Linked DNA regions of Homo sapiens: region 2 is linked to region 1. Evidence: fine-mapped QTL for protein levels in blood plasma. A gene starts in region 1. The other region holds a variant in brackets. All regions are shown on one strand. Distances are from middle to middle.

What was found. PIP is the posterior inclusion probability: the model's chance that the variant is causal. Protein levels are from antibody-based Olink assays in UK Biobank. Linkage for the fine-mapping came from a reference panel and not from the study's own genotypes, which makes the PIPs less certain.
Region 2: its variant is fine-mapped to the plasma level of the IL19 protein (UK Biobank, PIP above 0.99). The variant lies in the coding sequence of IL19. If it changes the protein, the assay may bind it differently, which can mimic a change of level.

What each region holds. Positions count from the first base shown.
Region 1 is chr1:206,768,387-206,771,227 of GRCh38, forward strand. IL19 (interleukin 19) reads left to right here and starts at 2,387. Exons shown (of 7, transcript NM_153758.5): 1 at 2,387-2,692. IL10 (interleukin 10) reads right to left here. Exons shown (of 5, transcript NM_000572.3): 3 at 2,521-2,673; 4 at 1,443-1,508; 5 at 1-342. The coding sequence ends at 250. RefSeq lists enhancers at 878-987, 2,548-2,737.
Region 2 is chr1:206,838,965-206,847,490 of GRCh38, forward strand. IL19 (interleukin 19) reads left to right here. Exons shown (of 7, transcript NM_153758.5): 5 at 886-1,038; 6 at 2,040-2,114; 7 at 3,563-4,017. The coding sequence ends at 3,658. It overlaps LOC105372878 (a long non-coding RNA gene), which reads right to left and starts at 3,857. Exons shown (of 3, transcript XR_922482.3): 1 at 3,545-3,857; 2 at 2,459-2,754; 3 at 2,076-2,254. The variant T/C (reference allele first, on the strand shown) is at 3,648.

The DNA of each region.
Region 1 (2,841 bases):
CTTAAAAACAGGTGAAAATAATAAATATTGAAAAAAATTATAATATTGGGCTTCTTTCTAAATCGTTCACAGAGAAGCTCAGTAAATAAATAGAAATGGGGGTTGAGGTATCAGAGGTAATAAATATTCTATAAGAGAGGTACAATAAGGTTTCTCAAGGGGCTGGGTCAGCTATCCCAGAGCCCCAGATCCGATTTTGGAGACCTCTAATTTATGTCCTAGAGTCTATAGAGTCGCCACCCTGATGTCTCAGTTTCGTATCTTCATTGTCATGTAGGCTTCTATGTAGTTGATGAAGATGTCAAACTCACTCATGGCTTTGTAGATGCCTTTCTCTTGGAGCTGTGCAGAGAGATAAGAAACATACAGTTAAAATCCTTTCTGGGGACTAAATAGGCTCCCCTCCCTCATGCTCATGGATGGGCATGACCTTGAGTGCAGAGGTTGCTTGTTCTCCCTCACGCTGGGAAGTAAACCAGAGGATAGGCCTAGCTGCCTTGGGAAAGGCTGTGCATTGACCTTCATCTCCTCCAGGCCTCCCCCTAGCAAGGGGAGCATTCATTTTGCAAAGCACTGTCTTCAAAATGATGCCTTTTCAACAATTTTAAAGGTCACGTATTCACATGATGATTATGCAGAGTTTGATGAAAAGACATTAGAGGAAGCGCTTCGAAAGCAAGACGGTGAGAGGAGAGGAGGGAGCCTTTTAAATGTCTGTGTTCTCCCACCAACACACTGAGCAGGCCCTGCCCTGCCGCCCTGACCTACTATGAGAAATTCACACCCCCTGATGTTGGCACTCTGTGCAGTGTCTGTCCCCAGCCCACGAGGAGGACATAGGCCGCACGGTTTCTGGGAAATCAGACTGAAAAAGTTCACGCACAGTTGGAAGTGTGAAACCCCATTTCGTTTGGGAACTGACATTCTCAGGCACCTCCGCAGGTGCGAAGGGCAGATGGAAAGCGGGCTTGAACCAACTCCAGGTTAAGTGAGAATCCAGCTTCCTGCTCATTCTGAGTTCTGGGGAGTCTGGGCTGAACCCCCAGGTGTATTTGTATGTGCACATTTATGTGCCAGCTTCCTGCACGTGTGGGTTCAGCCTAGATTCCCAACAAGCTACTTTCTGTACTTTCTGTTTCCTTTGTCACTCTCCCCAGCATGCAGCTCACTGTGTTCACAGGCTGGCCGGCCAGCCTAACCCGCAAGCCTGCAAAGGCAGCGAGCAGTCATTTAGAAACCCCCAAAGACACTTAACAGAAAACAAATACAATCAAGGCAGCAGCTCCTCACTGGCTGAGCAGGTCATACCATCTGTCAGGTTCCCACACTCTCTCCAATGAAGAATGGGGCCTATTGAGTCCCCACCACCTTCCATGCTTTGGGGTTGGGGAGTGGGCATGGGTTGTGCTCTGCAGACCCTCTCTGCCACCATCCAAGCTCACCTTATTAAAGGCATTCTTCACCTGCTCCACGGCCTTGCTCTTGTTTTCACAGGGAAGAAATCGATGCTGTGGAAGAAAAGAGAAAGTGTTGGTGATCCTGGCTTCCAGCTCCATGTCCATCACACTTAGGGGACAAGCTGGTGGCATCATGAGGAGGCCAGATTTATCCAAATGCCTTGCCTCACAGCTCCCAGAGAGAACTGAGCCCTGCTTCCATGGCCCTGGGAGTTAAATGTATTTCTCCAGGACTCACTCCAAGATGTTTGCAAGGCTTGGATGACAACCCAGGTCTTGGGATTCCTTCCTCCCCCAGAACTCTACAGTATCTCCTGCAGTGCTGAGCGAGGCATTCTTCAGCCTGTCCTTTTCTGCCTCTCTCTCCTGTTCCTCCCCGTCAGTCACAGCCACCGAGGAACACTTCTAAGCATCTGAGGAGGGAAGCTACTGGGACCAAACCCTTCACATAGCCTTGTCCTACAAATAGACACCAACTGATTTTCCAATATTGGTGACAGAACAGGGGAAACCATTAGTAGTGAGGGCATCATTTCAGTTGGAGAAATAAATTACCTGGAGGAATTACTCATAGACACTAGCCTGGGGATGAATAGCCCCCTTGTCCCTTCTAAAATGCCAGGGGAAATCCTGTCAGTCAATTGGGCCCTTCTTAGAGCTTTGCTTTCAAAACATTGAGATTAAAAGAGGTGAATGATGTTTCCTCTGCTTGGGAACCTTAGCTCCCCGCCCAGGGTCTAGTTACAAAGAGGCAGTGGAGGCCTGACTGAAGCTCTGGGCTCCTTTTATGAAGAGAGAGGGGAGTAGTTAATAACCCACAAATGACTCACAAATAACAGGAAAGCTGTTTGCAAATTTCACATGTAAATGCCTAGCAGCCACCCCCAACGCCTGCTCAAAGAGAAATGAGCAAGAGATCTGACTCCAGGAGTCTTTCCTCATTTACAGCTAGCTCTGCCAGTCTGTGTCTTTGCTGTGTCTGTGGATGTGAGTGTCCCTGCTGGTCTGTAGGAGATGGTATTTTGGGGGCAGCTGCAAGGGAAAAAACTGATCTGCTACTTACACAGCGCCGTAGCCTCAGCCTGAGGGTCTTCAGGTTCTCCCCCAGGGAGTTCACATGCGCCTTGATGTCTGGGTCTTGGTTCTCAGCTTGGGGCATCACCTCCTCCAGGTAAAACTGGATCATCTCAGACAAGGCTTGGCAACCCAGGTAACCCTAAGGGCAGGAGCCAAAGGTGAGTGAGAGATTGGCGGAGGTGGCTGGGAGGAGGGGCTGCTGCAACTAGCTTAAGAGGACAGCTTGGTTCTAGCGATCCTCCTTCACCAGAAGCCTCCCCGAAGGGACTGAGCCCTTTGTAAACCCTCTGGCTGCTGGATGTGCTGA
Region 2 (8,526 bases), 73 kb after region 1:
GGAAAAGCTGACACTGGGGCCAAGGAGGCTTTGCTTCTTGAATGAAGATGGGTGTGCTGTCCCACCGTTAACCACTCCCTGCTTAGACTGAACAGTTAATCTTCTGCAGAGTAACTGGCTCTCAGGGCAGATGGCGGGCAAACTTCTAGAAGGAAACTGTCTAGCCAACTTCACTGGGCTGTGCCTGGGAATTTAGAGACTATTTCTTTGGGACATCTGCACTCTGCAGGCTGCAGACCTACCCAAATATGCCCATTTCTGCAGCTGTCGGTCTCTCTTGCAAATCTCAGCCTCATTCCAATGACCTTTCTGGTTTTAAAAGGACAGACTACAGGAGAGCTGAGCAGTGTGGTCCAGAGTAAGGTGGCCAGAATGAATGCAATGTGATTACAGTTGGAGGAATGCATACCTAGCAGGATGACTGGCATGCAACAGCCCTTGCATGTTGGCAGATGGGAGACATAACAGAGAGGCAACTTCAGCCCCTGTAGTGTAGGGAAGTTCTTTTCAAGAAAGCTGCTCAGCCATCAGTCCTTTTAAAAAGGAGGCAACTGGTTCCTGGAAAGATTTCAGTGGAAGTTAGTGATGACACGCTAGGGATACTGCAGAGAGAATTAGCCTATGATGGATTCTGGGCCCCATCCTTAGTAAATGTATTTCTCGGCCATACAGAAAAAGGGGAGAACTGGAATCTCTTCTCACTATTTTTGTCATAAGTAGCTTTGATGGGAATAAGAGAGGATGAACACTCTGAGACCATTACGAATTTTTCCAAAATGACTTTTAGTTCTCTCATGTGTCGCTGCCCCTACTCAAATGGACTGCCCTGGTCTCCAACATAATGAGAGAAGAGGCCTCTAGTGTTTCCCTAATTTGTGTTTGTAGCCCTTAGATGTGTGCTGCGTGACCAAGAACCTCCTGGCGTTCTACGTGGACAGGGTGTTCAAGGATCATCAGGAGCCAAACCCCAAAATCTTGAGAAAAATCAGCAGCATTGCCAACTCTTTCCTCTACATGCAGAAAACTCTGCGGCAATGTGTGAGTCACTGGGTCAGAATTCCAGCATCTGCTCCCTGTCTGCCCAAGGAGAGGCCAGGAAGTGCTGGCCCCCATCGGCCTCCTGATATGGTGCTTGGAGTCAAAGGAAATTCTCTGCGCACGTCCACAGGGAGAACTGTGGAGAACCTCTCCCAGTGGCCACTGCTTCCCCAGGGCTCCCTGCCTGCTGACAACTCCTCAGATGGTCTCCTCCTAGATAACCCTCCTGGGGTGACCAACTTATGTCAACATATTCCTTAGTAAGAGGCATGGCAAGGACTCCAGTTCTACTGTAAGCATACCCCTGGTTTCTTTATTTCTGGCCCTTTGGTGTCTTTACATCAATAAACCTCTGGGTAGTTCCTTGGTATGGCCTATCCCTAAAGGTTACTTAGAAATTCATTGCGATCTATTTAAATCCAACATCAGAAACAAAACCAACACAAACCAACAAAAACTTAGACCAGGAGAGAACCTGGGCTCTAGCCCCATTCCTGCTAATGATTTCCTGTGAGACTTTGTGGCAAGTGACTTCACCTCTCTGTGCCTCGGATTCTAAAATTGTTAGAAGAGTTGATGGCCCCTGTCCTACTTGCATTAATATGATAATGGACTCAAATAAATTCACCTAACCAGTTGTTTAATTAACAATTCGTTAAAATTAATTATCTAATTAATAATTAACATTTAACAAATGTTTGTTGAGTGCCTACCCTGTGGGATGCAGCACTCAGAGTGGTGATAAGACAGATATGGTGCCTGCTTTCCTAGTGCTGACAGTCTGATGTGTTCTAAATGCAGAAAAAACAAAAGGCGTGGGCAGATGCAGGTGACTCTACAGACAAGCTCTATTCTTCCGTGGCTGCTCCCACCTGAGTTTACTCATCTGACTCTCACTGTGGGAGGGAGGAGAAATGTCACTTCTCATGTGGGGAGGCAGGAGTAAGAGAGGGCCAGAGTGGAAATGTCCTCTGATAGGAGCTTCCTCCACTTTATCACAGCAGGAACAGAGGCAGTGTCACTGCAGGCAGGAAGCCACCAATGCCACCAGAGTCATCCATGACAACTATGATCAGGTAAGATCTGGGAAGAGGTTGGGGAAGATGGAAGATGAGAGGTAGATCAGGAGGGTGCCAGGCCTTCAGCCTCCTCTCCACTTAAATTCATGCATTCACTCTATAAGCAGCCATTGTGGGCAGGCCTCAATTCTCTGTGTCTGTAAAGAGAGTTTTGATTTTACCTCATTTGCTAATCTCCTGGGCTCCCCATCTCCATCATTCCTCCACCATTTTCTCATACCCTCATATATCAAGCCTGACCTGTATGATTTGGGGAAAGCACCCACTGCTTAAGATGGGATGACACAGAGGGAGCAAAGATCCCCCATGAAATGTGAGCTGTTACGCCTGAAACGTGTTACCTGCACGCCGTCACTGCGATCACTACCTGCCCCCCCATATTGTGTGTAGTGATGAAGACATGGTACTTCTCATGTTGATGTTGGTGTAAAATGCACATCTCACGTGGAGGTAGAGGAAGAAGCAGTGTTTCTCATGAGCATCAGTTCAAGATCTTGTTAAAATGCAGATTCTGGCTCAGCAGGGCTGGGATGAGCCTGAGTTTCTGCATTTAGATCACACTGTCAAATGATACCAATGCTTTGAAGAGCAAGAGTTAGGGAGTCTGTTATGGGCTCTGCTTCTTTGTGGAGAGACTCTGTAAGATAATGTTATAGAAATAGCTAAGAGTTACATGGTTCTTACTATAAGCCAGGTATTGCTCTAGGCACACAACAAGTATTAACACACATTCGTCCTTCCCAACAATGCTATGAGTCATTATCTGCATTGGATACATTAAGAAACTGAGGCTCGAGCAGGTAAAGTAACTAAACTAAGTTCACACTGCAACTGCACGGCAGAGGTAGGATTCAATTCCACGCTGGCTGGCTCTACAGGACGCGCTAAAAGCATGAACTCAGTCTGCTGAGGAAGGAGGTGGAATAAGGCAGGAGACTTGGGTTTCATTTCCAGCTCTGTTACTAACTGGCTGTGTGACATTGGGTAGGACACTTGCTCTAGGGGCTTTAGTGCTCTAATATGTCAAATGAGGACAACATGCTCTCCCTACCCACTGTCCAGCACCTCAGGGACAAAGATGTTCTGGGATAACAGAAGCACTAAAGCAAGCTGGTGTGGAGAAGAAAATCAGCGGAACTGGCCAGTAAGGCAGATTTTTTTTTCCTGTGAAAAACAGAGGAAAAAAAAACCTGAGGGAAAAGAATGAAGAATTTTAAAGTTCTGTTTATAAGGAGCTGACATAATTTAACTACTTGTTTGTGGGGAAAAAAATTGGTTGCCTGCGAGGAAAATAATATTGAGTCTGTATGTTATGCAAATATATTTCGTGACAAAAAAACAAAAACAGAAACAAAACCTTGTGGGAACCAGCATATGAAGAAAGTGACTTGAAAACCATTACACAGTCTAGAAAGGTGGGTTCTTACATTGATCTCTGATTTCAGCTGGAGGTCCACGCTGCTGCCATTAAATCCCTGGGAGAGCTCGACGTCTTTCTAGCCTGGATTAATAAGAATCATGAAGTAATGT[T/C]CTCAGCTTGATGACAAGGAACCTGTATAGTGATCCAGGGATGAACACCCCCTGTGCGGTTTACTGTGGGAGACAGCCCACCTTGAAGGGGAAGGAGATGGGGAAGGCCCCTTGCAGCTGAAAGTCCCACTGGCTGGCCTCAGGCTGTCTTATTCCGCTTGAAAATAGCCAAAAAGTCTACTGTGGTATTTGTAATAAACTCTATCTGCTGAAAGGGCCTGCAGGCCATCCTGGGAGTAAAGGGCTGCCTTCCCATCTAATTTATTGTAAAGTCATATAGTCCATGTCTGTGATGTGAGCCAAGTGATATCCTGTAGTACACATTGTACTGAGTGGTTTTTCTGAATAAATTCCATATTTTACCTATGAATGGAAGGATCTTTTCATTCAGGGAGAGTCAGTCAAGACTGAGGACAGGGTGTTTCTGACAGAGGGATGGTTGTCATGGTGACAAAGCTGAACAAGCACAGACACAAGTAAGTAGAGAGGCCACTGGGTAGAGAGGCTGAAAAGGGTACCAACATCTAGATGGACACTGCATAGATGATTCAGAGCACAAATGTGTATCTTTCAGATTTCATATCACATGCTTTAATGGAAAGAACAAGACCTCTGAAGTCCAATTGATCTGGTTCCAATCCTATGTGACTTTGAACAAAGCACTTAACGTTTCTAAGACTCAGTGTCCTCTGTTGTAAAGTGGAGATATTAACACCAGTCCTGTAGTGTTGCTGTGAGCATCGAGTAAGGAAAAGGTCTCTCATGACCTCAGCAGGGTGGGAGACAGCACGGTGCAATATAAAGACTGCCGACTCAGGGGCCACCTTCTGGTTCTAAGGCATCTCCTGCCATGAATTTCCCAGGGCAGGTCAGTACATTTCTTTGGTCCTTAGTTGTTAGTATTGTGGATACTGACCCTTCTGTACTACCTGCTCCATATAATTATTTATTTATTTATGGAGACAGGGTCTCACTTTGTCACCCAGGCTGGAGCACAGTGGCATGGTCATAGCTCACTGTAGTCTCAAACTCCTAGCTCAATCAATCCTCCCTCCTCGGCCTCCCAAAGTTCTGGCATTACAGACTTAAGCCACCACACCTGCCTCTATAATCATTTAAAAGCTGGAGTCATTATGAGGGCTTTGACAACCCTGATATCTGCACACACACCCCTCCTGGCTGTTTTCCCTAACTGTGTCCCTGCTCCTTCCCCAGGCTCACTGTGACCCAGCCATAGTTGTTTGCTCTGTGTTTCGCAAACACACCAGGCATGTTCTCACCATACAGTGTATGCACTTTGTGTACATGCACACTCATAAACTGAGGTAGGGTTAAAAAATAAAACAAACCCTCCACACATTATGCGTTAATGGGATTCATACGCTATTAGGGAGCAGGGTTGTTTGCTGAGGACCTAACTTTTCCAAAGTGACCTTGGATGGGCACCCACCCTGAGCAGGCTGGGTGATGGCAGTTATAGCATTTCTGATCTTTTATCACTGCCCTGGGATGTGCTTCCCCTGGACACCTGCATGGCTTGCACCTCCACGTCTTTCAGACCTTCACTCCAAAGGTCTCGTATTGGAGGATAACCCCCCATTTCCACCTTCAGCACACTTTGTACCCCTTTCCTGTTTATCTAGCATCCTATTTTGTTTATTAGCTGCTCCTCCACATGAATGTAAGCTTCATGAGTGTAGGGATGGTTTAGTTTGTTCACTGCCTGGCACTTAGTAGGTGTTAAATTCACAATTCACCTAGATTATTTATTCAAGAAATGTGAATAACCACAAACATGTATATAGTGCTTCCTATATGCCAGCCGATAGTCTAAGAAATACACTTCTTGTAATATAATATAATATAAATACATATATATATATTTCATTTAATTCTCACAACAATCCTATTGTAGGTTTTTAGAATGAAATAAAATGAAAAAGGCCACCTCATTGATTGTTAGCAGTATGGATAATTAAACCCTAAGAAGGAAACTAGGCACAGAGAGCTTAAGTAACTTACCCTAGGCCACATATCGCATAAGTAGAAGAGCTGAGCTTCCAATCCAGGCAGCCACATTCCAGAATGAACTATAATGTCCACAATAATGTACATATGTTGAGTTCATCATGTGCCAGGCACCAAGGTGAGAACTTAACTTATGGCTCCTCCTTTACTCCTCACGATAGTTCTCTAAGGTACGATTATAATTATAATGTGAATAACTCTGCACTTTGGGAGGCTGAGGTGGGTGGATCACTAGGTCAGGAGTTCGAGACCAGCCAGGTCAACACGGTGAAACTCCGTCTCTACTAAAAATAGAAAAAATAGCCAGGCATGGTGGCGGGCACCTATAATCCCAGCTACTGGGGAGGCTGAGGCAAGAGAATTGCTTGAACTCGGGTGGCAGAGGTTGCAGTGAGCTGAGATTGCTTCATTGCACTCCAGCCTGGGTGACAGAGCTAGACTCTGTCTCAAAAAAAAAAAAAAATTGTCTGGAGATTAGTGAGGTTTGACAATACACCTAAGGCCATGTTTCTAGTTGTACAACAGAGATTCAAACTCCGGGTGTCCTACTCCAAAGCCTGAGCCCTCCATCATGATGGTTTGTGGCTTGTGCATCTTGCTCATGTGACAAGAAGCCCACAAGAGAAGGTGATTTACTGGCATAATGACCTGCACCTGTAGGAAATATTGTTATTATCAATGGTAGTAGAAGTACTAGTAGGAGAGGAGGAGGAGCAGGAGGAAGATAATTGAAGAAGAGCTCATCCTTTCTGAAATGGCTAGTATCTTGCTTAAAACTCTCCTAGGTCTCTTGTTTGCTTCCTTTCCCCGTCTACTTTTCCTTTCTCTTTTTTCAGACTTGAAGAATATGTCCCAATGCTTTTTGAGTTCGCAGTAGTTCTGGCATAGTGGGGTGTGTGTGTGTGTGTGTGCGTGTGTGTTTGTGTGTGTTTCTTCACAGAGCTGGTGCTTAAGAAATACATGCTAAGAAGCCAAGAGTAACATTATCTCCCAAACCATGCTGAGTCCTCTGTCAGCCCCTAGTAGGTACCCTTGAAAAATCTGGAGCTCACCTCCACTGCTAAGGTGCAAGGGGAGGGAATCCATGTCACGCACCAGGGCCATGACAGGTACTTTACACATAGGACCTCATTCAAGCCTCAGAGGAAGCCAAGGGGGTTGGAGTTCTTATCCTCACACGGTCAGTGAAGGCATCTCAGGCTCAGGGAGGTGGGGGAGCTTGCCCAAGTCCACAAAGCTTTGGGATGGCAGATCCAGAAAATGAATCCAGGCCCCATCTTCCTGGCTTTGGTGCCCTCTCCTTTTGCTGCTAGGGGAGTTCCTTTTATCCTGGACAAGACTGTATAACCTAGGGCCCAGGTTACTATGTTGAATGCCAGCAATGAAGATAACTAAACCCAGATGCACCAAAAGGGGCTTGGACTAACTAGCCACAAGCTTCTGAAGTTACACATGAAATTATGGACATACACAGAGCAAAGGAGCAGAGGCCAACTTCTGAGTATGTCACGCAATGTTCCCGGCCCAGCTGAGGCCTGGGCTCCTCCTGGGGATGCTCTATCCTCCTTCCATCTTCCAGAGCAAATTGTTAATAGCCACACATGTTCATACTGCTGAAACTTCATACTGCTGAAAAAGGCACTGAAGAGGTAGGAAAAACAGTCTTGAATCGCTGATGCCACCCTGTCCCCAATCCCCCATCAGTGGCAGTGTGGTGCAGAGAGCAGTTTTGTGTTCTGGGGAGAGGGAGAGCGCAGCAATTGTGAGGCATTGAAATCAGTACTGTCCTTGTTACAGGAGAAAGCAAAACTGGAACACATTCACCTGATGGCCACCCATGGAGGGAGATTTAAACCAGCCCTACCCAGAGGGGAGTCACTGACCCCAACAGTCAGAACTTGAGTTTCTGCAAGCCTTACCACTGTGGGCTAAAGTGCTCTGGGGTTCCAAATAAACTTGAAATTCAGTCTAGGCCAGAAGGACTGCAACTCCTAGGCAAGTACTAGTGTTGAACTGGGCCCAGAGCCAGCAGACTAGGGTGTGAATGCACACAATATACTGAGACATCAACCAAGGCAGCTAAAGTGGTACCAGCATTACCCCTCCTCTAACCCCAGGCTGCACAGCTCATAGTTCAAAATAATGAGACTCCTTCCTTCCACTTCAGGAGTGGAGACAAAAGAGTAGGGAGGACTTTGTCTTGTATCTTGGATACCAGCTCAACCACAGAAGGATAGGGCACTGGTCAGTCATGAGGCCCCCTTTCCAGGCCCTAGCTCCCACTTGACATTTCTAGGCACGCCCTGGGCCAGAAGGGAACCAGTTGCCTAGAAGGGAAGCACCCAGTTTTGGCAGGATACATCACTGGCTAACTGAAGAGCCCTTGGGCCCTGAATAACCAGCAATGATATCCAGGTACTATGTCGACGGCCTTGGGTGAGACTCTGAGACTTGCTGGCTTCACATGAGACTCAGCACATTCCTAACTATGGTAGCTATGGGGTGAGACTTCTTCTGCTTGGGAAAAGTGGAGGGAAACGTAAAGGGGACTTTGTTTTGCACCTTAGGTACCAGCTTGGACACAATGGGGTACAGAACCAACTGGGCTCCTGGGGTCCCTGATTCTAGGACTTGGCTCTTGGATGGCATTTCTGAACCTGCCCTGGGGAACAGTGGAGCCCACAGCCATGAAGGGTGAGTCCCAGGCCTAGAAGCATTCACCACAAGCTGACTGAAGAGCCCTTGGGAACACTGGCAGTAGTGTGGCAGTACTCTCTGTGGGCCTGAAGTGGCGGTAGCCATCCGATGAGGCTCTCCTGCCTTTGGAAAGCGGTAGAAAGAGTGGGAAAGT